Regions from separate parts of the Homo sapiens genome. Here region 1 is linked to region 2. The links come from fine-mapping of genetic effects on gene expression. A gene starts in region 2. The other region holds a variant in brackets. All regions are shown on one strand. Distances are between the middles of the regions.

What was found.
Region 1: its variant is fine-mapped to the expression of ZNF789 in whole blood (TOPMed, PIP above 0.99).

What each region holds. Positions count from the first base shown.
Region 1 is chr7:99,617,620-99,629,355 of GRCh38, reverse strand. It overlaps ZSCAN25 (zinc finger and SCAN domain containing 25), which reads right to left. Exons shown (of 8, transcript NM_145115.3): 2 at 10,705-10,831; 3 at 10,224-10,308; 4 at 9,363-9,795; 5 at 7,782-7,983; 6 at 6,716-6,807; 7 at 5,176-5,299; 8 at 1-165. The coding sequence starts at 9,749. Among named protein-coding and RNA genes, the nearest start is that of ZSCAN25, 6.5 kb to the right of the region's middle. The variant C/T (reference allele first, on the strand shown) is at 6,526.
Region 2 is chr7:99,464,567-99,480,237 of GRCh38, reverse strand. It overlaps ZNF789 (zinc finger protein 789), which reads right to left and starts at 7,348. Exons shown (of 5, transcript NM_213603.3): 1 at 7,182-7,348; 2 at 3,758-3,835; 3 at 451-577. The coding sequence starts at 3,781. It overlaps TRW-CCA5-1 (tRNA-Trp (anticodon CCA) 5-1), which reads right to left and starts at 10,554; the gene lies at 10,483-10,554. It overlaps ATP5MF-PTCD1 (ATP5MF-PTCD1 readthrough), which reads left to right and starts at 14,071. Exons shown (of 9, transcript NM_001198879.2): 1 at 14,071-14,109. The coding sequence starts at 14,097. It overlaps ATP5MF (ATP synthase membrane subunit f), which reads left to right and starts at 14,071. Exons shown (of 4, transcript NM_004889.5): 1 at 14,071-14,127. The coding sequence starts at 14,097. RefSeq lists enhancers at 7,059-7,348, 7,639-7,728, 7,949-8,108, 13,883-14,002, 13,669-14,284 and 1 more.

The sequences.
Region 1 (11,736 bases), 150 kb before region 2:
GCCCAGGCGCACTGCCTGCAGGGCCACCAGGCTCCTGCTCACAGACCCTTCCGAGCCCAGGGCCCTGGAGAGAGGCTTCCCCAAACCTCTCTGATGTCAGTGCCACCAGCGCCCCTTTCAGGTCTTCCTGTGGGGGTTTTGCCTCCTTTTCCTTGCTCCCACCGCCTACAGGACAGGAGGAGATAAAGATTGATTCTGTGGTAGCCGCAGGACATTTACATGTTAGAACTCTGCTTCACAGGGGTCCCATTCATGGTTCCTTCTCTTTTTTCCTTTGACCAACAACCTCAACTCAGGCTTTCCTTACTTCTTTTTCCTTATTTCCACCTCCATGTCTTTTTACAGAATAGTCTGCCAAATTCCAGTGCCCGCCCACTTATCTTGCTGCTAATCTAGACCTTTACTTCTTACAAAATGTAGCTCAATAATTTCCTCTAAGACACTCACCACGATTATTCTCTTACTCTGGGCCTCTTCAGCACTGTGCACCTAACTAGCACTTTATTATTCTGTACCTATTTACATGTGACTTTGTTGGAAATGCTGTTTCCATTCATCCAGATGTCCTGCGCCTTCCCCAAACGATTCTACACCTGCTGTAGCACAGGGCAGCACACAGCTCTCCAGACCTTCCAGGTGCCTGCTCAGTCCCCTGTCCTGCCCACATGCTCCCTCTGCCTAACCAGGTTCATTCATCTGGGTCTCCTAGGAGCCTGGCAGGGGACTGACTCAGGGAAGATGCTTGCTAACTGCTGGCTGAATGAATGAAGCAGGCTTCACTGAGGCTCCTGCAGGAGAACGCCCCTAGGTAGCATATTTATCAGGACTGAGACCATGACGCTGCTGAAATGCTCAGCTTCACCCTTCCTTCATCCTCACTCTGATCCTTCTTATATTCTCTCTAAATTAACGGAACAGGTGTTTATGGAAGAGTAACAGAAAGGGGAGGAGAAAAAAAGAAAAGAAAAGGTATTGGGGAACAAAGAGGCAAAGAGAAAAAAAGAAAAGGAGAAATAAGTGGTGCTTAAAGCGGAAGAGTCCTTTTAGGCAAGATGACTAGAAGACAAAAAAAACCTGACAGTATATGCCTCCTGGTTTGATAAAATATGAAATACATACTTATCAGCTTGGATTTTGTTTTGTAAACTTTTCATGAAAATAAAAGTGTACAAGCCATTTATGTTTTGTACACGCAAAGATTTTATTTTTATTTTTTTGGATCCAGCGCTGGCTAAAAAATGTCACGTTACCCTTTTTTTCCTTTTTGTGGAGATGGGGGCCTCACTATGTTGCCCAGGCTGGTCTCGAATTCCTGGGCTCAAGTGACCCTCCTGCCTCTGCCTCACTGAGTGCTGGGATTACAGGTGTGCGTCACCACACACTATGCAAAGAATTTTCTTAACGAACCCAACCACGTAAACAGCATTCAGTTCAACAAACAGAACATAACCAGTCCCTAGAAGCCCCTTTTACATCTCCTCCATCACTATACCCTGCATATATATACTATACATATACAGTATATACATATACAGCATATACATGTATACAGTATATACAATATACATATACAGCATATACGAGATATACGTATACAGCATATACGATATACGTATACAGCATATACGAGATATACGTATACAGCATATACGAGATATACGTATACAGCATATACATGATATACGTATATAGTATACATATATACTATACCAACGGGAACACATTGTCTGGACTTTTTTGCCTGTTCTTGAACTTCAGGTAATTGTCTCACACATTGTTTCTGGCTTCTTCTACTCAATATCATGTTTGTGACGTTCACCTATATCATGGTGTGAAGCTGTAGTTTATTCTTTTTCATTGGTATACAGTATTCCACTGAGTATATGTATGTGTGTGTGTGTATGTATATATAGATAGATATACAGATACAGATAGACTGCAACCTACTTATTAATTTGACTGTTGTTCATTTGGGTAGTTTTCAGTTTTGAGGTGTTATGAATAGTAAGATTAAAACTAAATGCAATGCACAAACCACAACTAGATCTTGGGGAAAGCTGACTATGCACTAGATGTTACATATATCGAATTTATGTTTATTTTCTTAGATGAAATTATGCTACTGGGCTATGTTGGGAATGTCATTGTTAGACAAATGCTGAAGTATTTACAAATGAAAGATTGAGATGCCTCCAACTTCCATATCATTCCAAAACAAAACACACATTATACAGCTAAATATGGCAAATGTTAACAATTGGTGAATGTAGATAAAGACCTAAGTGTGTTCCCTGTACTAGTCTTAGCTTTTCTGTATGTTTGAAAATTTGTATAATAAGAGTTCAAAATATAAAGCTGGGGGAAAAATAAATACAATGATACCTAAGTATAAACAGAGACACTGGGAGAAAGACACAGTAGTGGAAGAGAAGGGACCTAGCAGTGAGAAACCCGTTTTGAGTGCTGCACTGGCTGCTCAATTGCTGTGTGATCATGGGAAAATCAATTAACCTCTCTGAGCCTTACATTCACCACCTTCAAAATGGATTGTACACTCATGAAGTTTACTGCACACATGGAGCAGGAATGCAATGGTTCATGATATTATTTTAACTCCCAGACCATGTACCTGACTTGCAGCTACTTCCAGGGACCATCCACTTAGATCTCAAAGTCAACAAATGGAACTTTCCATTCTTCCTCCCTCTTAGGAAAATGCTTCCCTCTCTTTCTGACAGTAGTAACATAATTTTTCCAGGCCCTTAGCCAGGATCCTAAGACGTAGACTCCTCTCTGACTCTTCTCTTTCCTCCCCTCTGGCCAATCTGTGGCCCATCCTTGGAAGCATATTTCAGTAAACCCCCTTCTACATGACCACTGGCCTGGTTCCTGCTCTTACCCCAGTGCCTACACTATTTCAACCCTCCAGACTGGCCGTACCCTGCCGTCAATCCAATTTTCCTCAAGTAAAACCTCCATCACATTACTCTGCGCAGAAAAAATTTTTAAACAAGGACCCAGAGTCCTCACGGACTCCTCAGCGGCCTCACTCTACTCACTCCTGCCTCCTCCTTACTCCTCTGAGCACTCATCTTTCACTCCAGGACCCTCACCATCCTGGGAACCAGCCTGCAGAGTCCTGCATTCAGGTTTCTGCACCTGCTACTTTTTGCCTCTGTGATTCCAAATCCTGTTGTGAGTTCTTGCTCCAGTCCTTGTGGACATTACTGCAATTACAACCCAGACAACAAGGTCTGCACCTCACCGTCTGCTAATGAGAACAGACGAACAACTGGAAGTGATCTGGGCAGCCACCTAGCTCAACCCTGCCCTGTGCATTCAGTCTCTTTACAGGTGAAGCAGCTCAGGCCCAGCCCCAAGCAGCTGTCAGTACAAGCACCAGGACAACCCGAGTGTGAATCCCAGGAAGACCTGAAAGCTGGGACAGCAAGTGAATGGTACACTTGGGAAACAGGCCTTCGTGTCACCTGGCGGCAGAAATGTTCAGGTATGGGCTTGAGTTGCTCTGAGTTCTGAGACACTGAGCTGGTGAGGGGACAAGGACAGAACCAGTCTCCAGAACAGTCAGAAATGGCCAGGAGAGCATGAAAATCTTCTGAGAATGGGGGCGAGGGGCTCCTCACCCCACACAGCAGCATCACTGGGAGGGGAATATCCCTGAGGGGGACCCTGGCACCAGGACACTGGCACCTTTGTCTGGGGCTCATCACTCGAGCCCCTGCTTTGTTCTGTCATCCTCTGCCGTTACAGCAATCACACATCTCCACATAAAGTATGCTGACATCTTTCTGCCACTTGCATCACTGCCACACTGTGTCAACCGTGCCCTGGACCCAGGTCTCCCAGGAGACCAGTGCCCCTTACCGTATCCCACTATTACATGCACATGGCCTCTTCCCCTGAACTCTAAGACCCCACAGGCAAGCGCCTTTATTTTTAACTCTTCATAGTGACCAGAACAGCAATGGCCACAGAGCCAAGTCCACCTCTGTGGTGAATAAATGAGTGAAGGCTGAGGGCTCCTACAAGAATCCCTTAGTAATACTTACAGCACTAACTAAACAATCTAACACTACCATGGTCACCACACATTTAGATATGTCACCTCCCTTCATCCTCATGGCACCATGAGGACAGGTTCCATGAACAGCCCCATTCCACAACAGAGGAAACTGAGACCTGGAAAGCTCAAGGGAGATGCTCAAGGTCAGGGTCAGCAAGTGGAGGGGCAGGATGGATTCTCTTACGTCCTGAAGGAAGCACAGGGATAATCTTGCTCTTCCTTCAAGGCATTTCAGGATAAGGAAAGGCTAGGTGGGGTCGGTACAGATGGGTGGTCAGTGTACAACTCACAAAGAAGTTATGAAACAAAAAAGAAGAAAATCAAAGAACAAGGACAGGCCGCTCCAGCCACAGTGTTTCCTCTCCCCGCCGGCATCCTGATTCCACGCATGCAGACTCTCCATACTGTCCCTTGCCCTGGCAGCCCCAAAGCCCCGCAGTGCGCTCTGCTGGCAGCCCCTGTGGGCTCTCTCTCGCTGCTCCTCCTCCCATGAGCTGCTGTCACACACAATGGCCGCATCCCCCCAGGCTCTGAGCCCAGGTCAAACCCAGCCACCACCTGAGTCCCAGCGCAGCTCTGCTTCCTCTGTGACTCGGGCCACTCCAACCTCTCCCATCGCGAAGCCCCCTCGTGCCCTCCTACGTGCACACCGTGAGCTCCAACGCTTTCGTGCACGTTAGTCCTGCCCACTTCCTGCCGCAAGAGAAAACCACTAACACAGGGCCCACATGCAGGGAGCACTCAATAAATATCTGAACAAGCTCAGATGCCCCATCTTTTGCTGTTCGTATCTTGTTCTCAAGCCCTCAGTGTCTTTAATCATGGACACAATGTAGGTGTTTGGGGGTCCTCATGACCGACCTGTCTCCATACAGCCAGAATAATGGCCTCATGTTTTCCTGCTCCATCATTTGGCTCCTCTATTGACACAGGAAAGCAGCTCCTCGTGCCCCATGGTCCGTGCTGGACCCATTTACCCGCCTGCCATGAAGTCCCCTTCCTTTGCCAGGAGCGCCAGAGCTACGGCAGGACCCCTGACCTGAGCTTTCAGAACTCCCCAGTTCCTCACCTGTGGGTGGAGACAGTCTTACCTGGAGAGACCCTGCAGTCCTGCGGTTCCACATACTCCCCAAAGCAGTCTATCTGGGCTGGGGTCACATGCCTCCACTCCTCCTCAGGGAAGGCCAGGGCCATATCTTTAAATGGCCCCAACCCCTGCAACAATAGGAGATTGCTATGAATAAAGAAAGAATCCTAGGCCAGAGACAGTGGCTCATGTCTGTAATCCAACTTCCTCCCAACCAGCTTCCTCCCAACAGTTGAATGGGAGTAATCCACTTGTTTGAGCCACTGCAGTTGTGAGCCTCTGTGGCTGGGGCTCAGCTTGCCCCTAACAACTAAGTCACCTCATTTCCACTCTGCAGCAGCCTCCCACTCACACCTCATGCTTGACAGAGCCTGGCAGCCGCTATTTACCTTCTCATCAAGAACAAAGTTCACATTCGGCCAAGCCCTGTCTTAAGAACAAGGCTGTGATAAAATAAATGCATCCTCAATTTCTCACTCACTGCACCACGAAGAACTATTATGGTACAAGGGAGGATCCAACCAAATTAAAAAGCACTGATGTCATTCCTCATCCCCTCCAAAGTACATCCTTGGAGAACAGGAAAAGGGAAATGATGCTGGCATCCAGCCTTGCCCAAATACGGCTTGAGCAGGACCAGACTTGATCCCCTTCTTTTTTCTGCCAAACACCTTTTCTTCTTCAAAGAACTCTTTTAGACTCGCCTCCTTGAGGAAGGTGCCCCACTGGAAAGCCCCCACCTCCCTGCTACTAGTGCTCAGCACCCTGTGGAAAAGAGAGCACCCCATCTATGCTTCAGTTACCTCATTTGTGGCAGATGAGTAATGTTAACGAGGTCCAACTCCTAGTGTGGCCTGTATGGCCAAAGAGACCACCCTGCTCAATGCTTCTGAAAGCCCCAACCCTGAGTCAGCCACATTCCTGCTGAGGTTAGGGGACAGGAAAGTTTCCAAAACAGAAAAATCAGCAGCAGAAGTACCCATAAACGGCACCCACAAAGGGTTATCTCGGGGCCAATCAGCACAGCCTAGATAGCCCTAGGGGGTTTCTATCTGTAACAGTTGTAAGAGTCCATCTGTGGCTGGGCGCGGTGGCTCATGCCTGTAATCCCAGCACTTTGGGAGGCCGAAGTGGGTGGATCACAAGATCAGGAGATCGAGACCATCCTGGCTAACACGGTGAAACCCCGTCTCTACTAAAAATACAAAAAATTAGCCAGGCGAGGTGGCAGGTGCCTGTAGTCCCAGCTGCTTGGGAGGCTGAGGCAGGAGAATGATGTGAACCCAGGAGGCGGAGCCTGCAGTGAGCCAAGACCGTGCCACTGCACTCCAGCCTGGGCGACAGACATAAGGTT[C/T]GATGTAAATTAACAACTGCGGCTGATGGTTCAGTGGAGGAAACCACACCATCAGGTCCACCGGGACTAGGAAGGGAGAATGACTCAACTTGGGGCGGGAAGGGAACACTGTTGTGCAGAGAAACCTTGGGGAAGGTGAACCTCAATCAAAGCAACGGTCATGATTTCTGCAAAGGGAGTCAGAGCTCACCTGCGATCCAGCAGTAAAGAACCCAGCTGCCATCTCTTGGTCTCTGGGATTCACTGCGGGGAGGCCAGGACCCGCCTGCAGAACAGGTAGTGCTGAGCAGGGACAAAAAGCATGAGAAAGATCAGAAGGATCAGTGATGTTATGCTGTTAGCTCGTTCAAATGTGTCCCCTACCAGATGCTCACAACCTCAGGAACCAGAAGACTCCAGACAGAATCCCTTTTCACTCTGGTACCACACTTTCCCATGCACAGGGGCCTGGGTGTCCCTTGCCCTATTCTCAGCTGGGGCCTGGGTGTCTCCTGTTCTCAGCTGGCAAGATTGTCCCGGCCCTGTCCGTCCAGGGCTACCCATGCTACCCAGTCACACTCTGGGAATAACCTCCTATGAGATTCAATAACAAAATAAAGCTACGTGGGCTGGGCGCGGTGGCTCATGCCTGTAATCCCAGCACTTTGGGAGGCTGAGGTGGACAGATCACGAGGTCAGGAGATCGAGACCATCCTGGCTAACATGGTGAAACCCCGTCTCCACTAAAAATACAAAAAAATTAACAGGGCATGGTGGCACATGCCTGTAGGCCCAGCTACTTGGGAGGCTGAAGCAGGAGAATTGCTTCAACCCAGGAGGCAAAGGTTGCAGTGAGCTGAGATCGCGCCACTGCACTCCAACCTGGGTGACAGAGTGAGACCCCATCTCAAAAAAGAAAGAAAGAAAGAAAGAAAGCTACATATTACTTTGGGGGATATGGTTTATCTGCCTACTGAAAAAGTATTCCTGCAAGTCAGCTGAATATTTCTTGGTAGTTTCTAGAAGGGATCTGAGGGAAAGAAAAGAGAAATAATAAGAAAGCATGATCCCAGATATCCCCTCCAGACACCAGAGGGTAAAGGGAGAAGAAACAATTTCACTTCATCTATTTCCTAAGGTGGAGGAAGTAGCCAAGAAAATTCACAATTACACCTCGTGGGTAACTTAGTTGCTCCATTGCTGGGTTTCTGAAGAGAGTTGGCTGCACAGCACTGTTTCCTATGACCTGACATCCCCACTATCTGCGTCTTACTCACCTTGCTCCTGGAAGGCCCGTGTCTCATCTCCAGGGTCCTGACTGAGCTGCTCCTCGGTACCTGGGTCTGGACCTTGAACTCCTTCCCCAGGGGGCATCCCCCATTCAGGCTTGACCTCCACTGGCCCCAGCTGGATGCCTGGCTCCCAAGCGCCTCTGCAAAGTGCTGTTTCCTCCTGCTCTCCCTGCCTGTGGCATGGAACCTAAGAACAGTTCCCAACACCGATTAGAATGAGGCCTGGGCAAGGCTGTTATGAAGGGAGTTGAACTAAAATCTAAAAAGAGAACCAAGAAAAGAACCATTCCAGCTTCAGGGGAGAGGAAGGAAAAATCAGCTGAGCTCTTCCCCAGGACATTAGTGAGGAAGTGAAAAGGAAGCTAAACTCATGCATCAGGCCCTGAGCAACTTTTATCTGTCCACGCCATTTGACAAGGGTCCCCTCTACCTGCCATCACCAAGCCCAAATATTATCCTGCTGAGGATTTTAACACAATATACTCACTACTAGAAAAAAAAATTCCTAATTGAAAAAGCTGAAAATAAAAAATGCAAAGCCTAGACCCTGCAGTGAACAGGCCAGTGAGAAATAGTTGCTTTAAAGAGAGCCAGGAAGCCTGGGCAACATGGCGAGACTCCATCTCTACAAAAAATAAAAAAATTAGCCAGGCATGCATGCCTGTGGTCTCAGCTACTCAGGAGGCTGAGGTGGGAGGATCAACTGAGCCAGGAGCTCAAGGCTGCAGTAAGCTAGGATTGTGCCACTGCACTCCAGCCTAGGCTGTTGACTGACCCTGTCTCAAAAATAATAAATTAAAAAGAGCAAGAAAAATCAGGAGGACTCTCTCACTGAGAAGTACTCACAAAAACAAGGCATTTCTGGGTCCACTTTTAAGCTCCTGAGTTGAGTAGGAAAAAATTCTCTTAGGATTCTGAAGACAGGAAGTCAGGGTGACGAGAGTGTGCACGGGAGGCTGAACTACAGAAGGACGGGGGCTTGTGAGCAAGACGGTGTCATCAGTCCTGCTCTCCTTTCCCAGTCATCCATCAGGGGGCTGTACCACAAAGTGACCGAAATATGGCTGGAACCTCAAGGAAGCACGTGCGGTGCCAAATCACTTGGTGTCATTAGAGCAGCACCAGAGAATTGTTACAGGAGCCCTATGAGCCACAGAGAAACAGTACTGCCATGGACAACCCTTTTCCGGAAAAATATTCCCCAGGTGGGATTCTCTGCCTTCCCAGAGGCATCTCTGTCCAAAGCAGGGTCAGGTCTATGAGGGACCCCAAAAACAATCACAACTGCCTTCTTTTTGCCTGATGCCCACAAGGGAAATATGGCCAGGCCTCTGCCCTCATGACCAAACAGAGGCTTCAGGCCCTTCTGCATGGCAGCATCTCCCCTGGGAATGGCCTTTCTTGCTGAAAACGCCACTGCTCTCCAAAAAGAACCTCAGGGAGTCTGAGGGCAGAGGAGGGCGGCTCCACACCTCGTCCACTCCTACTGCTTCCTCAAATCTTTGGATTCTTTAACATTCCCTGCCCACGCCAAGGGCGCCAGACCTGGATCCCCTCCTCACCCACCGCCTTGGCCTCCAGTGCTCTTTCTGTCAGGTCCTCCACCATGGCGGCCAGGGCCTTGCCACTCTCTGGGCCATGCTCCCGGATCCAGGCGTAGAACTCGCGGGGCAGGATAGTGAGGAACTGCTCCAGCACCAGCAGCTCCAGGATCTGCTCCTTGGTGTGCAACTCGGGCCTCAGCCACCGACGACAGAGCTCCTGGAGCTCCCTAAGAGCTTCCTGGGGTCCAGCTGCCTCCTGGTAGCGGAACTGCCGAAACCTCAGCCGAAAAGTCTCTGGACTAGGGTCCTCCCTTCCTCTGCCCCATGGCAACTCTTTCTCCAGTTTCACCACAGGAATACCCAACTGCTGCTGAGGAGCTTCCGCCATCTCTGGATGCTCTTTAAGCATCTTCAGACTCCCTCCGAGGAGACTGAGAATGACTGCATCAATGACCCTTTTGAGAACAAGAGACACATGAAAGGTCAGCCCATCCCAGTTCTGTCTCTACATCAAGGAATATTCCACTGGAGAACACAGTAATTACCTTTTACAAGGCATTTTCAAAAGACTGAACACAGATCCCAAAAGTCAGGTCAATTCAACATAGTAATCATTTGCTAAGCAACTATTAGGTACAGAGACTAAACAGAAAATGTCTAAGATTTTGCTTTTATACCCACAAATAACTTAGGATCTCACTGGAGAATAACACTACAATCAGAGAATAATATATAATGGGTTATAACTGGGTGAGTCACCAGGGCCTACTCTTCCAATACTAAAGGAAACATACATGCAACACACAAACACACACATATACACACACAAGAGGCAGGCAGAAACAACAAATAAAATAGAAAACAAGACACACTGGGAGCTTACCCTCCTGAAACTCATATGCTGGTACAGCAGACAGAAAAAGTCAAATGGAAGCAACTCTTTTAAAAACTGCAAGTGGAGACAAGTTCTAGAAAGAAAATAAGTAGGGTGCTCTGTTAACAGGGGGCAACTGACTTGAAGAAGGCTTTTCTAAAGACATGATACCAGGCTGACTCAAGGATGAGAATGAGTCAGTCATTCTAAGAGCATTCCAGGCAAAAGCCCTGAGGCTAAGAAATTACTCTGGGTGTCCAAGAACAAGCCATATCCCAGTGTGGCTTCAGCAGTGACGAGCAGAGCTGCACCAGAAGAGGTGGCAGAGGCAGACAGAAACCAGATCACCCAGAGCCTGCGCCACAGAAAGAATTATGAACTTTATTCTTATTTCTTACTTTAGCGAGGAACTACATGTTTTATAAAAGTCATTCTGCCTGTGTGTTGACAGGGAATAGGCTAGAGGTGGCAAGAGGGAAATGGCACTTACAGTGATTCAAGCAGATGATAAGGGCTTAGATCAGGGTGGTGGCAAAGAGTCAGACAAAATCAAGACGTATTTTGGAGATTAAAACCAACAAACTTGCTGATGGCTTAGATGTGATGGTGCGCTCAACCTGAAAAAGACAATGGAGCAACATATATACCATTATGACAAATGACCTAAAGATTTCTAACTTGTACAGGCTTTACTCTTTAGAAAGCATGTGAACACATATTTCATCTAATACTTAAAACACTTCTGTAGGATGAGTGCTACTCCTCCTACTTCTCAGAAGAAAAAAAAGAGACTAGATGATAACTGCCTCCCAAAATACATGGTACAGATTGAAAAAAAAATGTGAAGTCAAAAAGAGAGAAAACTAATCTAAGTCCAAGTACTCAAGGAAAAGAAGAGGCTTGAAGTAGACTGGAGAATGAGTCCTATTTACCTCCAAGTGGATTATGCGGAAGACCTAGACTGGGAAGACAGACTTGGAAGTCCAAAGCACCAGGGGAAGGAGATCCTGCTTGTCAGAAAACGGAAAGATCACCTGACTGGAGCAGAGAATGGGCAGCTGGCAGGAGGCACACCCCAAAGCTTCTGCTAAATATTCTATTGTGAGTTTGTGTATTTATCTACCCCCACTTAAACCAAGTTTATATTTTCAGTCTATTCATTGACTCTGCAACATTGAGATTTCTCTTTCATTCCTTTCTAGCTATTGCATTGGTTCACTCCACTAGTGCATTTAATGCACTACAGTGCAAATGTTTACCCATGTGTCTCCCTCTAACAGATTCCCTGGAGGCAAGAAAGATCCTCATTCATCTTTTATCTCTGCCATTTGACAAATAGAAATTGCCCCATTGCTATTCTTTATCTCCCCCCACCCATTGTGACTCTTTTGTTTTGTTTCTGAGACAGGATCTCAGGGTTTTATCACCCCAGCTGGAGACCAGTGGTGCGATCACTGCAGCCTTTGCCTCCTAGGATCAAGCGATCCTCCCACCTCAGCCTCCCGAGTAGCTGGGACTACTG
Region 2 (15,671 bases):
TTCTCCTGCCTCAGCCTCCCAAGTAACTGGGACTACAAGCGTGCACCACCACACCAGGCTAATTTTCGCATCTTAAGTAGAGCTGGGTTTCACCATATTGGCCAGGCTGGTCTCAAACTACTGACCTCATGTGATCCACCCGCCTCGGAATCCCAAAGTGCTGGGATTACAGGTGTGAGCCACCGCACCTGGCCTACACTGTTATTTCTGAAGTTGGGTATACAGATATGCACACCAAGTTGGAAAAATAAAGACAATAAATGGTTTCCTATAGGATGAAGTCAGGTTTCACTGTGGTGATGTCTGGTCAGGGCTTGTAGCCACACGAGTTATAAAAAAACCTTTCGGTTTTCACCGCTTTTTCTGATTCTGGAATTGCAGATAAGGGACTAAGGGCTTGCACAGACACTCAGAACACAGACAAAGCCCAATCTTCAAGCCGTGTCCTACCCAGCAAGACCATGTTCCTGTAGTTCTCCAACATCACATCTCGGTAGAGGTCCTTCTGACCCCAGTTGAGGTGGCCCCACTCCTCTCTGGTGAAGTACATCGCCACATCCTCAAACGAGAGCAGCTCCTGGAAAAGTAGCTGATAAAGGTAACTGCAATTCTTAAAATAACTTACGCTCAATGATTATTCCACAGCTGAGGAAACCAAGGTTTGGGAGGTAGAGTGTGGGCCAAGGGCACCCAATTCATAAGGAATATATTCAGGGCTCCTTTCAGGCCTGATGGCCCTCAGGCCAGACATGTGCTGGCTTCCATACCACGGGGTCGACACAATTAATCTCTAAAGGGCCAGATGGTAAATATTTTAGGCTTTTCAGGCCCTCTGGTCTCTGTTCCAGTTCCTCAAATCTGCTGTTGATTAGAGGAACAGCAAATCAACAATCTGAGGAACAGCCTTTGTGTTGGAGCACAAAAGCAGCCGTGGACAAGTAAGCGAATGGGCACAGCTGTGTTTCAGGGAAACTTTACCAAGCGGTCCAGGGCAGTTTGCTGACCGCTGCTCTATAAAAATAACCTATTGCTTCTGCCCCAGGTTCCTTAGGAAAGAGATGAGGTCACTGGGGGGTTGGTTAATGTGCAGACTATTTACAAAGGGATGAATAGTCTCAATGAACATGAACAAGAAATGTGGAAGCTCGCAGGTCCTGGCCACCCTGGGGAACCAGGGCCTGCTAGGTCTGAAGGGGTAAGGTGGGGAGGGCTGCTGGAGCCCAGAAGGCTGCTGGAAGGGGAGCAAGACCAGCTGCGGCTGAACAGGATGCAGCCACACCCATCCCACAGCCCAGTGGGGAGGGAGCCGTGGGAAGAGAAACCCAACCTCAGTTTTCCCCAGGCCTCCGGCGCCCTGTCCCCTGTCCTCCAACCCTCTTCATCCCATTGCCACAAGCCAAGCAGATGCCAGAGACCAGGGGAGCCCGTTGCTGGAGAATATAAAAGGTACAGACCAAGGCGCAGACGCCTGGGGAGCATATCCAGAGTGGGCAACAGTGGACACAGCACAGTGAGCACAGGGGACATTACATCTGCAAGTGACTGCCCCCTCCAGTGGGCTGAGCACTGAAGCTGCCACACTCTCCCTCCCACACCACTGCAGCCCTCTGGGCAAAGGGGCCCAGCGGCTGTCTACACACTCCTTGCTCTCACAAGACACTGCATGGGTTCAGAGGGGATGTGTGCAGGGAAAGGGCAAACGTTCGCTGTCCTATAAGTGGTCAGTAACAGGAAATGCCCACCCCCATCCTGAGACCATCCTGAGAAGCTTCACGTAGCTCCCCTCTGCAGGCAGGCACCAGAACCTCCCAAATTATACGGACTTTCTTTCCTGCCTATCAAACCTGAGTTCCACTGCTACGGTTGCAGGCCCTTTCTCACCATTATCCAGAGTGTCACTCTTTTACCAGAGCTGCGCTGCCATGTCCTCAATCTGACCTACTCAGCCATCTGCATTCCCGCACCTGCACAAGGTTAACAAGCATGGGAATAAAATGGCTTCATCTCCCAGAGTCATTGTGGCATGGTAACTCCTCTCCTAACATCCACAATAGGTTCTTGGAAACTGATTTTTAGCAAAAGTATGTACAGCAGCAGGTCCTTGAATAACTTTGTTTCACTGTAACACTGATGGAAAAAAAACGGTTTTGATATACATAGTTTCCCTTAAAGTTGCAGTTTCCAAGAACCCATCAACAGCTAGGACTTGTACATTGACAGATGGGCACCAAATGTTGCTTAAAAGTTCCATTTTTTGTTTGTTTGGGTTTTTGTTTTCGTTTTTGTTTTTTGAGACAGTTTCGCTCTTGTTGCCCAGGCTAGAGTGCAATGGCGCGATCTCGGCTCACTGCAACCTCCACCTCCTCGGTTCAAGCAATTCTCCTGCCTCAGCTTCCCAAGTAGATGGGATTATAGGCATGCGCCACTATACCCAGCTAATTTTTGTATTTTTAGTAGAGATGGAGTTTCACTATATGTTGGCCAGGCTGGTCTCAAACTCCTGACCTCAGGCAATCCACCCCCCTCAGCCTCCCAAAGTGCTGGGATTCCAGGCATGAGCCACTGGTCCTCTCCTTTCTTTCAAACTCAGTCTCTTCTAGGCTGGGCGCGGTGGCTCACACCTGGATTCCCAGCACTTTGGGAGGCTGAGGCTGGTGGATGGCTCAAGCCAAGAGTTCAAGAACAACCTGGGCAACATGGTGTAACCCTGTCTCTACAAAAAATACAAAAGTAACCAGGCGTGGTGGCATGTACCTGTGGTCCCAACTACTTGGGAGGCTGAGGTGGGAGGATCACCTGAGCCTGGGAAGGTCAAGGCTGCCATGAGCCATGATCATGCCACTGCATTCCAGCCTGGGCAACAGTGTGAGACTCCGTCTAAAAAAAGACAAAACACAGGCTGGGCACAGTGGCTCACGCCTGTAATGCCAGTACTCTGGGAGGCTGAGGTGGGTGGATCACGAGGTCAAGAGATGGAGACCATTCTGGCCAACATGGTGAAACCCCGTCTCTACTAAAAGTACAAAAATTAGCTGGGCGTGGTGGCACTCGCCTGTAGTCCCAGCTACTTGGGAGGCTGAGGCAGGATAATCACTTGAACCCGGGAGGCAGAGGATGCAGTGAGCTGAGATCGCGCCACTACACTCCAGCCTGGCAACAGAGTGAGACTCCGTCAAAAAAAAAAAAAGACAAAACAACTCAGTCTCTTCTAATCACCCTCCATAATGCTACAAATTCAATAACTGACCTTCCATTATACCCGTTCATAGGAACAGTTCAGAATTTATTATGAGAAGTTCCTTACACAACTATCTCTCTAATCAGGTTGTAATCTCCTACAGGTAAGAGTTGATCTCCCAGCACAGAAAACAGCACCTGGAGTGTACAGCAGTAGGTGCACAATAATGCTCACAGACAGAAACAATGGGCAACTACTACGGTAATAAGAGCAACAACTTAACACAGTGCTAAACGAGTAACCAGATACTGCACAAAGGACTTCACAGGGTGTTTTTCATTGAATCTTCACAACTCGCTGTGATAGGCACTCTCACTGACCCATTTTACAGAAAAGAAAACTGGAGCCAGAGTGTTTATGTAACTGAAGGAAGCCCATGTGACTCCAGAGGCTAAGCTCTCTACATTGCACTGTCTAAGAAGGAAAACTCCCCACATTGATCAAGAGGGCTCAGTCTGAGGAAGGAGCTGCTGGTGGCAGTGACTATGCTGATGAAGCAGAGGGGGAGGCACAGCTCACCTTCCCCCTGGCTGGTGGGAACATGGCTTCCACGGCCTGGTCTTTTGCAAGGGGTGGGATCCTGGACGTCTGGCTGAGCTGGAGAAGAAAAAAAGTCAGTAAGGCCAGCCCTAATTTGAAGCTCTCTTGGTTGGCAGATCTGGGACCCGGAATTCCAACGGGGCACACAGACAAAGCTTAATACAAAGTCCCTGTGTTTGGTGTTGGAACATGTGATGAAATGCATGAGCCGCTACAATAAGTCTAGTAATTTCAATTTCCCAAGCTCCATCCAAGAGAACCTGCAGCCCTGCCCTCCCCTTCTCCCTAGAACATGTCATACTCTGCACCTCATATACAAAGGGACAGCAGATAGACCACATATAAACATAGCACTCTGGCCAGGCACGGTGGCTCACGCCTATAATCCCAGCACTTTGGGAGGCTGAGGCGGGTGGATCACGAGGTCAGAAGATGGAGACCATCCTGGCCAACATGGTGAAAGCCCTTCTCTACTAAAATACAAAAAATTACCTGGGCGAGGTGGCAGGCACCTGTACTCCCAGCTACTTGGGAGGCTGAGGCAGGAGAATCGCTTGAACCTGGGAGGCGGAGGTTGCAGTGAACTGAGATTGTACCACTGCACTCCAGCCTGGTGACAGAGCAAGACTCCATCTCAAAAAAAAAAAAAAAAAGAAAGAAAAAATAGCACTCTGATCCACACCCTGCAGCAACCAGCTCTGGAAGCCAAACCATAGCCTCTGAGGCATGGGCCCCAAATCAGGACTTGATCAATAACAGCTTTATCCAAAATTTTGCTCCCCACTCCCTTTAATTTAGGACCAACAGGAGAAAGCCAAATGCTCCCCTCCCCTATCACACAGGATGTCCGAGTCTAGTTATCCTAGGGATTCCAGTTCACCAGCTTTTCTTTCTCTAAATCTACTTACGTATTTCCAACCCTGCTCCTACAGCCAGCTCCACCTGCTGACAAGCCCCCTCTGAAAGTGTTCTAAAGGGGTCACTCAACCCTCACCTCTAGCCTGGTGATTTGCTAGCAGGATTCAGCAACAGTAACAATTACAGACTTGATTTTTTTTTTTTTTTAAACAGAGTTTCACTCTTGTTGTGCAGGCTGGAGTACAATGGTGTGATCTCTGCTCACTGCAACCTCCGCCTCCTGGGTTCAAGCGATTCTCCTGCCTCAGCCTCCGGAAGTAGCTGGGATTACAGGCACCCGCCGCCATGCCCAGCTACTTTTTTGTATTTTTAGTTGAGATGGGGTTTCACCATGTTGGTCAGGCTGGTCTTGAACTCCTGATCTCAGGTGATCCACCCACCTCAGCCTCCCAAAGTGCTGGGATTACAGGCGTGAGCCACTGCGCCCAGCCTACAGACTTGCTTTCTAACTCAGGATGAATTTTAATGAAATTCACTTTCATTTTAATGGATGCCCCTCAAACACAGTTCACCTTCCCTGAAAACAGTTTAGAAGACCCTTTGCCTTTCTTTTTTTTTTTGAGGAGTCTCCCTCTATCACCCAGGCTGGAGTGCAGTGGTGTAATCATGGCTCACTGTAGCTTCCAACTCCTGGGCTTAAGCAATGCTCCTGCCTCAGTCTCCTAAGCAGATGGGACTGCAAGAGTGCACCACCACGCCCAGTTGTTTGTAGTTCTTTTGTAGGTGGGGCCTTGCTATGTTGCCCAGGGTGGACCCTCTGCCTTTTAAGCAAAGAGGTACACTCTAAAAACTATCCTGATCAATGGCTCCAAGGCTGGAGCAAAGGCCTCATCCCTTTCATTCTCTACACCAAACTTGTCCAAACCTCAGCCTGTGGACCGCATATGGCCCAGGACGACTTTGAATCCAACCCAACACAAATTCGTAAACTTTCTTTTTTTTTTTTTTGAGGTGGAGTCTCGCTCTGTCGCCCAGGCTGGAGTGCAGTGGCGCGATCTCGGCTCACTGCAAGCTCCGCCTCCCGGGTTCACGCCATTCTCCTGCCTCAGCTTCCCGAGTAGCTGGGACTACAGGCGCCCGCCACCACGCCCCGCTAATTTTTTGTATTTTTAGTAGAGACGGGGTTTCACCGTGTTAGCCAGGATGGTCTTGATCTCCTGACCTCGTGATCCTCCCGCCTTGGCCTCCCAAAGTGCTGGGATTACAGGCGTGAGCCACCGCGCCCGGCTCGTAAACTTTCTTAAAACCTTATGAAATTGTTTTGCGATTTTTTTTTAGCTCATGAGCTATTTTTAGTGTTTGTGTATTTTATGTGTAGTCCAAGACAATTCTTCTTCCAATGTGGCCCAGGGAAGCCAAGAGATTGGACACCCCTGCACTATATTTACTGAATGTGTTTGTGAAGGCTGTGCATCTGAATGTCAGACTTGCTAATGAAAAATTAAATGGAGTCCATGTTTTGGGTACGGCCCTAGGCCAACCACCCACAGCCATGTAAGGCATTTAAAATACATTGATTTCTCCCTTGAGTTCAGGAGTTGGAGACTGCAATGAGCTATGATGGCACCACTACACTCCACCCTGGGTGACAGAGCAAGACCCTGTCTCTCTTAAAAACAACAGGCCGGGCGTGGTGGCTCACACCTGTAAATCCCAGCACTTTGGGAGGCCGAGGCGGGCGGATCATGAGGTCAGGAGTTCAAGACCAGCCTGGCCAACATAGTGAAACCCAGTCTCCACTAAAAATACAAAAATTAGCCGGGCATGGTGGCGCGTGCCTGTAGTCCCCGCTACTCGAGAGGCTGAGGCAGGAGAATCGCTTGAACCCGGGAGTTGGAGGTTGCAGTGAGTCGAGATTGGCCCATTGTACTCCAAACTGGGCAACAGAGTAACACTTCGTCTCAAACACAACAGCAACAACAATTCCTTATTTCCCTGAAAAGTGTGCGCTGACCAGGAAAGAAGCTTTTTTCTCGTCCGCATGATAAACTGAACCAATCAGCTACAGATGCGAGGCTGATCCAGCTCGACTTACCCTAGAAGGAATGCAAGTTGATAATGGCCAATTACAATCAAGATCACTGCACTTCCTCATTTAGCTTTCCAAGCTGCCATTGGAACAATTTGCCAGCTGTTCCTCTGCATGCACAATAAACTCTTAAAACTTTAACTGGAGGGGACTGTTAACTTTTGACAAAATCCAAAATGCCGCTTCACAATCACGTGAACACCTTCCACTAACAACCACGGCTCATCTCCCACTCTAACAAAACCAAGTCCAGGCGTTCACCATCCATTCATTCTTCGGACTTTGCTCCTCTCGCTGCCGAAGACTTGACACCGCCAAAAATACTCAAAAGCTGGTGCCACAGGCCCCGAGAGCCGCCGCACAAACCCGGAGCGTCCCCTGCGAGCCGGGGGTGTGCGCAGTGGCCTACCCCCCGCACCCACGCCCCCCACAACACTCGTTTCCTTCTCCCCAAACCTGCTGACGGCTCCGAATCTCCGCCAAGCCGCCTCCACCAGGGGCTGGGCTCTCCTCTCGGGGTTCCCGGGCCTGACCCGAGGTCTGTCTGGTCCGCGCCCCTCGGCGAATCACCCCTTACCGGAGGAACAGACACAACCACTCTGGCAGCCTCAGAGCCTCTCGCTGGCTCCACCTGCGCGCGCCGAGCGAAGCGTCCCAGCCAGCGGCCCCTCTAGGACCGCGGAGGCTTCACGACTCTCTTGTCAGACAAAGAGAGTGGCGCCCGCGCGAGTGGGCCCGAACCAATCAACGGCCGCCCTCCCCGCCCAGGCCAATCAACGGCCGGAGACAGCACCGAGAGAGTCACGTGATGGACAGGGCCCCGCCCCTCCTGTTTAATCGTAACATAATTTAGAATTATTCTATGATTCAAGAGCGACACAATTCGTTTCTTTGGCTGTGTGTTTGTGGAGGGGAGTAAGGTTATCAGATAAAAGAAGAAAAATGGGCCAGGCGCGGTGGCTTACGCCTGTAATCCCAGCACTTTGGGAGGCAGAGGCCGGCGGATCAGGTCAAGAGATTTAGATCATCCTGGCCAACATGGTGAAACCCCTTCTCTACTAAAAATACAAAAAAATTGCCGGGCGCGGTGGCTCACGCCTGTAATCCCAGCACTCTGGGAGGCCGAGGCGGGTGGATCACCTGAGGTCGGGAGTTCGATACCAGCCTGACCAACAATGGAGAAACCCGTCTCTACTAAAAATACAAATAAAATTAGCCGGGCATGGTGGTGCCTGCCTGTAACCCCGGCTACTCGGGAGGCTGAGGCAGGAGAAGCGCTTGAACCCGGGAGGCGGAGGTTGCGGTGAGCCGAGATTGCGCCACCGCACTCCAGCCTGGGTGACAGAGCGAGACTCCGTCTCAAAAAAAAAAAAAAAAAAAAAAAAATTAGCTGGGCATGGTGGCGGCGTGCCTGTAGTGCCAGCTACTCGGGAGGCTGAGGCAGGAGAATCACTTGAACTCGGGAGGCGGAGCTTGCAGTGAGCCGAGATCCCACCACTGCACTCCAGACTGGCGACAGAGCGAGACTCTGTCTCAAAAAAAAAAAAAAGAATATTAGATCTTAATTAAAAGGATAATTGTGTGGCTTATGTAAATTACCCCCAAAATACAGTTTTAATGTGAGTAAGGGGTTAATTTTTTTTCTTTTTTTTTTGAGACAGTCTCGCTCTCGCCCAGGCTGGAGTGCAGTGGCGCGATCTCGGCTCACTGCAAGCTCCGCCTCCCGGGTTCACGCCATTCTCCTGCGTCAGCCTCCTGAGTAGCTGGGACTACAGGCGCCCGCTACCACTCCCGGCTAATTTTTTTTGTGTGTGTGTTTTTAGTAGAGACGGGGTTTCACCATTTTGGCCAGGCTGGTCTCGAACTCCTGACCTCAAGTGATCCGCCTGCCTTGGCCTCCCAAGTTTTGTTTGTTTTTTATTTCTTCTAAACAAAACAAAACAAACAGGATACACGTGCAGAACGTGCAGGTTTGTTACATGTGCCATGGTGGTTTGCTGCACCTATTGACCCATCCTCTAAGTTCCCTCCCCTTACCCCCGACTCCCCAAAAGGCCCAGGTGTGTGTTGTTCCCCTCTCTGTGTCCATGCGTTCTCAATATTCAATTCCCACTTATGAATGAGAACATGCTGTGTTTGGTTTTCTGTTCCTGTGTTAGTTTGCTGAGGCTGATGGCCACCAGCTTCATCCATGTCCCTGCAAAGGACAGGATCTCATTCCTTTTTGTGGCTGCTTAGTATTCCATGGTGTATTTGTACCACATTTTCTTTATCCAGTCTACCACTGATGGGCATTTGGGTTGGTTCCATGTCTTTGCTATTGTAAATAGTGTTGCAATAAACATATGTGTGTTGGCTGAGTGCAGTGGCTCACGCCTGCAATTCCAGCACTTTGGGAGGTCAAGGCAGGCAGATTACCTGAGATCAGGAGTTCGAGACCAGCCTGGCCAACATGGTGAAACCCCGTCACTACTAAAAATACAAAAATTAGCCGGGCTCGGTGGCAGGAGTATGTAATCCCAGCTACTCGGGAGGCTGAGGCAGGAGAATCGCTTGAACCCAGGAGGCGGAGGTGGCAGGGAGCCGAGATTGTGCCATTGTACTCCAGCCTGGGTGACAGAGTGAGACTCTGTCTCATAAATAAATAAATAAAATAAAATAAAAAATAAAAGAGATGGGGTCTTGCTATGTTGCCCAGGCTGGTCTCAAACTCCTGGGCTCAAACGATCCTCCCATCTCGACCTCCCAAAGTTCTGGGATTACAGGCATGAGCCATCGCACCTGGCTCCTGTTGGCTTTAACAGAAAACAGGAACACTCAGTACTCCAGGTTCAAGACATTTGAACATAGGGAAGGCAGTGAGGTCAGGCCTGGCCACCCCTAGGGAGAGGACAAGGAACTCAGTCCAGCAGGTCGTTCCAGGAATACGAATGTGGGGAGGGAGCCGGATGACACGTCAGGCCAGCGCAGTCCCATAGGAGCGGCTCGGGGAAGACAACTGACTTCCTCCTCATTTGTTTTGAATAACGCTTTGTGCTAGTGGTGCTGGAACTTCAAATGCTGGAGATCAGGCTGCACCACCAATGCTTCTCCAAGGATAGCAGCCCCCAGGGTGGGCAGGTAGTTTTTGGATTGGGAAGGCAACTATTTCCCGAGCTCTGAACCGTTTTATTTATTTTTTCATTTAGAGACAGTGTCTCACCTTGTCACCCAGGTTGGAGTGTAGTGGCACAATGATAGCTCACTGCAGCCTCGACCTGCGCTCAAGGGATCATCCCGCCTCAGCCTCCTAAGCAGCAGCTGGTACTACAGGTATGCACCACTACACCTGGCATTTTTGCTTTTGCTTTTATCGTTGTTTTTTGTTTGTTTGTTTGTTTATTTTTTTATTTTTATTTTTTTTTTGAGAGACGGTTTTGATACGTTGCCCAGGCTGGTCTTGAACTCCTGGGCTCAAGCAATCTGCCCGCCTCAGCCTCCCAAAGTGCTCCTGCACTGTTTTAAGGTCCTGTCTGAAGTCCTGTGAATGTACTGTCTGAGGCACAGTCCTGATAAATCCTGCTACAGATGTGAACAGCACGACCTAAGTATTGGTTCTGAATTTTTCCTCACACTTTAGCTAAGGTGCCGGTCCACTGCTGAAGTACCTACGCAAATAAATCTTTAGGGCTAAAGAACAGAAAATACAGTGTCCAAGGTTGAGAGTTACCGGCAAGCTATAACTCCTGTTGGCTAAAGAAAGGGATGATCACATGTTTGACCCCGACGTGATTTGAACACGCAACCTTCTGATCTGGAGTCAGACGCGCTGCCGTTGCGCCACGAGGTCTTGGAAACCTAACTTTTTTGTGCTTTAGATGGACCCTAAAGAGTTCTTTTTCCCTTTTGTAATTCAGAGGGAAGTGTAAAAGTAAACGAAACAGGATAGAAGCAGACGCCACCACGGGGTTCGGGAATAATCCTCTTGTCATTCGGGAAAATTCACCTGCCTCGGGCTGTGTAGTCTCCTAAGGAGACACGTTTGGGAAGCCACAGTGGAAAATGTTTCACGCAGCTTAGCAGAGAAGGCTGGGGCGGGGTTGTCAGGGATCCGGATTCTCTTCTCCCCAGCCCTCTGCTTGGGGAGCACTAAGAATTTGCACGAGGGCCAGATCAACGAAAGAGTACTATGTTCAAGCTGGGGGCGGTGGCTCACGCCTGTAATCCCAGCAGTTTGGGTGGCCGAGGCTAGGCGGATCACCTGAGGCCAGGAGTTCGATACCAGCCTGGCCAACATGGTGAATCCCCGTCTCTACTAAAAATATAAAAATTAGCCGGGCGTGGTGGCGGGTGCCAGTAATCCCAACTACTCGGGAGGCTGAGGCAGAATCGCTTCAACTCGGGAGGCGGAGGTACAGGGAGCCGAGATCGCGCCATTGCACTCCAGCCTGGGCGACAGAGCGGGACTCCGTCTCTTACCAAAAAAAAAAAAATTATCTTTGGAATAATCTGCTCCCTCCAACCCACCCCCACCTTCCCCGAAACAACCCCAGTTCATTAACTAAAACGTTGGCATTTATACATATACAAATCACAGCTCCTGCGCCCTCAGTCCTTCCATCCACCCCAGGGGATCGGGCATTGGCGTAGCTTCCCTCCGGCCTCTTCCCGGGGCCTCCCTGGATTCCAGTGTGCGGATCCTGGGCTCCGGCGGCTCTGCGTCCCCGCGAGTGTCCGGCCTGGGGAAGGGGCGGGGGCGCGGGTGCCACTGGCCACTCCTGCCTTTTGCTGCTCTCCTGCACGTCCCACGGAACAGCGGCCCCCTCAGCTTCCCCTGCCCCAGCCCTCAAGTCCATCAGCTCCCGGAGGCTGCCTCTGCCCGGACACAGTGCAGTCGGGTCTCTTCGGTCCCTCGTAGTCTTCCAGGTCCCATACTCGCACCCTGCAGGAGGATTCCCTGGGTGGACCAGGAAGGTCCCCAGGCCGATTCCTGCCCCACGGAGGACCTGACACCTGGGGTCCGGCAGACCCCATCCCTGATCCTTCCTGCGGGGCCCTCTGCCCCAGCCCTGGCATCTGCCCCAGCCCTGGGGAGTGGGAGTTACATAGGCCCTGGTGCAATGGGCAGGGTTTTTCCTGGGGGTTCAGTTGCTTAGGGACGCAGCCCAAGGCGGGTAATAAACTCCTAAGACTACATTATACCCGCATTATACCGTGGATGGTCAACACACACCGCAAGGAGCAAGTGAAATAAACTTTGAAGACAGAGAGTTCAAGGGTGCAAGGAACCGTTGAGAACACTCCTACCGCAGTACACTACTATATTTGCTGGGGTTGGTTGGTTTGTTTGGAGACAAGTTCTCACTCCATCACCCAGGCTGCAGTGCAGTGGCCCCATCTCTGCTCACTGCAACCTCCGCCTCCCAGGTTCAAGCAATTCTCCCGCCTCAGCCTCTGGAGTAGCTGGAATGACAGGCGCATATCACCACGCTTGGCTACTTTTTGTATTTTTAGCAGAGATGAGGTTTTGCCATGTTGAGGAGGCTGATCTCGAACTCCTGATCTCAGGTGATCCGCGCACCTTGGCCTCCCAAAGTGCTGGGATTACAGGCGTGAACCACCGCGACCAGCCTGGTTTTTTTTTGTTTGTTTGTTTTTTGTTTTTTTTGAGACAGAGTCTTGCTCTGCCGCCCAGGCTGGAGTGCAGTGGCTTGACCTCCGCTCGCTGCAACCTCCACTTCCCAGGTTCAAGTGATTCTCCTGCCTCAGCCTCCCAAGTAGCTGGAATTGCAGGCACCTGCCACCGCGCTCAGCTAATTTTTTTCGTATTTTCACCATGTTGGCCCGGCTGGTTTTGAACACCTGACCTCAAGTGATCCGCCCACCTCTGCCTCCCAAAGTGCTAGGATTACAGGCGTGAACCACCGCACCTGGCCTGTTTGTTTTGTTTTGTTTTTTTAACCATTTTTAATTCCCACTGGCGATGCTGGCCGTGCTTTCACACACCTATAATTGTATATGCGATTTTCACTGCCTGGGGAGAAGGGAAGCAGACATGGAGGAGCCCCACAATGCCACCTCTGAAACAAGAAATGTAGCAGAATGAACTGAACGAGGGTGGCATTTATTTGGCAAGTTATGACTACAAGACCTGCTCTCGAGGTTGTTTTAAAAATCGGAGGCCCGGCGCGGTGGCTCACGCCTGTAATCCTAGAACTTTGGGAGGCCGAAGCGGGTGGATCACGAGGTCAGGAGATTGAGACCATCCTGGCTAACATGTTGAAACCCCGTCTCTACTAAAAATACAAAAAAATACAAAAAATTAGCCAGGCGTGGTGGTGGGCGCCTGTAGTCCCAGCTACTCGGGAGGCTGAGGCAGGAGAATGGAGTGAACCCCGGAGGTGGAGCTGGCAGTGAGCCGAGATCGCGCCACTGCACTCTAGCCTGGGTGACAGAGCGAGACTCTGTCTCTAAATAAATAAATAAATTAATTAAAATAATCAAAATTGAAGTAGCCCGGGCAGTGTGGTTCATGCCGGCAGTTCCAGTATTTTGGGAGGCCGAGGTAGGAGGAACGCTCGAGGCCAAGAGTTTAAGAGCAGTCTAGGCAACATAGGGAGACGCCTTCTCTACAAAATATAATTAGCTGGGCGTGGTGGCGTGCACCTGTAGTCCCAGCTACTTCGGAGGTGGAGGAAGAACGCTTGAGGCCAGGAGTTCAAGACCAGCCTGAGCAAAATAGAGAGCCTCTACCCCCACTCCTCACCACACTGTTTCCACCAAAAAAAAAAAAAAAAAAAAAAAAAAAAAAAAAAAGCTGGAAGTGGTGATGTGAGCCTGTAGTCCTAGCTACTTGGGAGGCTGAGATGGGTGGATCGCTTGACTCCGGGAGTTCAAGGCTGCAGTCAGCCGTGATCAAGCCACTGTCTGAAAAGTAAATGCTCGTCTGAAAAGTAAAAAATAAAAATAAAAATAGACTGGGCGCGGTGGCTCACGCCGGTAACCCCAGAACTTTGGGAGGCCGAGGCGGGGGGATCACGTGAGGAAAGGAGTTCAAGGCCAGCCTGGCCAACATGGTGAAACCCTGTCTCTACTAAAAATACAAAAATTAGCTTGCTGTGCTGGTGCACGCTTGTAGTCCCAGCGCGGCCTCTTCCCACCTTTTAAGGTAGAGAGCCCAGGCTGAGGCGCCCCTCTCTCTAACTGCAGGACCCTCGGATTTTTGCTGTCCAGGCACCTCGCCCTTCGCTTCATGGCCTTCTAGTAGTTCCAGGGTGTTCGCAGTTGTGACCTGCTTCCCGTGAGCCTCTGCTCTACGCCCCTGGATGGGGCGTGCATTCCCTACCCAGCAGCCCTCGCGCGGTCCGGCACAGCGGACACCAGGACTCCAAAATGGCGTCAGTTGGTGAGTGTCCGGCCCCAGGTAAGGCTGTTTGGACTCCGTGGTGGAAGCAGGAGCCAGGGTCCAGGGTCCAGAGCCACACTGGGAGAGAAGGAAGCTGCGGAGCTGCCTGCCCTTTGCTCAGGCACTTCGCCACGACCTCACTTGAGGCGCGCCAGACCCCGCTCCGCCTGCCCAGGCGCGCCTTCCTGCTGCCCAGGGCCTGCGCCAACCGGGTTAGGCGTGGAGGGTGAAGGCATCTGGGGCACGCGCTTCTGGGCCTGGGAATGCGCCGCCTTGGGCCACTGTTCCTCTTTCCGCTAAGAAATAGCCGCTTCCCTCTCCCGCTGCGACCCAGTTGCTTTGCACTTGAATGTTAGGCGCAGCTTTTGCCCTTTTTTCCCAAGGCTTAAGCTCAGATGAAGCTCCAGGAGGAGCTCAGGACTAGGACTGTACCTGATACCATGTAAGGTTCGATGCATATATGTTGAATCAGAGAGGCGAGGTGACCTGTTCAAGGTCACAACTCGTGCGAGGGCTGAGCTGGTATTCAAACCTGAGGATTCGTGGTAAATGAACTTTATTCTCTAGGACGGCCTTATGACTAGCAGGCTTTTCCGAGACACCCATGTGTAAATCGCTACATTCATCCCGCTGTGCACACTGATGATTTTTGTTTGTTTGTTTTTGAATAGTTAGCCCTAGATGCTCCATAGTAGCCTTGTCAGAGAGTCCTTGTTGGGAAAGTCGATTCCATTTTACAGATGAGGGAAATAACTGTTCGGGATGTGGTGTGGCCTCTCTGAGGTCACACAGCCTGATAGTGGCAGAGTTTTGATTAACACATGTGTGTCTTAGCTCAGTTTCTGGTTTTTTTTTATCATTTTTTTTTTGAGATGGCGTTTCGCTCTTGTCGCCCAGGGTGGAGTGCAATGGTGTGATCTCGGCTCACTGTAACCTTTGCCTCCTGGGTTCAAGCGATTCTCCAGCCTCAGCCTCCGAGTAGCTGGGATTACAGGCGCAGGCCACCATGCCCAGCTAATTTTTGTATTTTTAGTAGAGACGGGCTTTCACCACGTTGGCCAGGCTAGTCTTGAACCCCTGACCTCAGGTGATCCATGTACCTCGGCCTCCCAAAGTGCTGGGACTACAGGTGTGAGCCACTGCGTTTCTGTATTCTTTTTTTTTGACATGGAGTCTCACGCTGTCGCCCAGGCTAGAGTGCAGTAGCTGATCTCGTCTCTGCAACCTCTGCCTCCCAGGTTCAAATGATTCTGCTGCCTCAGCCTCCCAAGTATCTGGGATTACAGGCACACACCAGTACCTACGCCCGGCTAATTTTTTTTTGTATTTTTAGTAGAGATGGGTTTCGCCACGTTGACCAGGCTGGTCTCAAACTCTTGACCTCAAGTGAGTCACCTGCTTCGACCTCCCAAAGTGTTGAGATTACCAGCGTGAGCCACTGCGCCTGACCTCTGGTTTGTTTTTTTGAGATGGAGTCTCGCTCTGTCGCCCAGGCTGGAGTGCAGTGGCGCGATCTCAGCTCACTGCAAGCTCTGCCTCCCGGGTTCACGCCATTCTCCTGC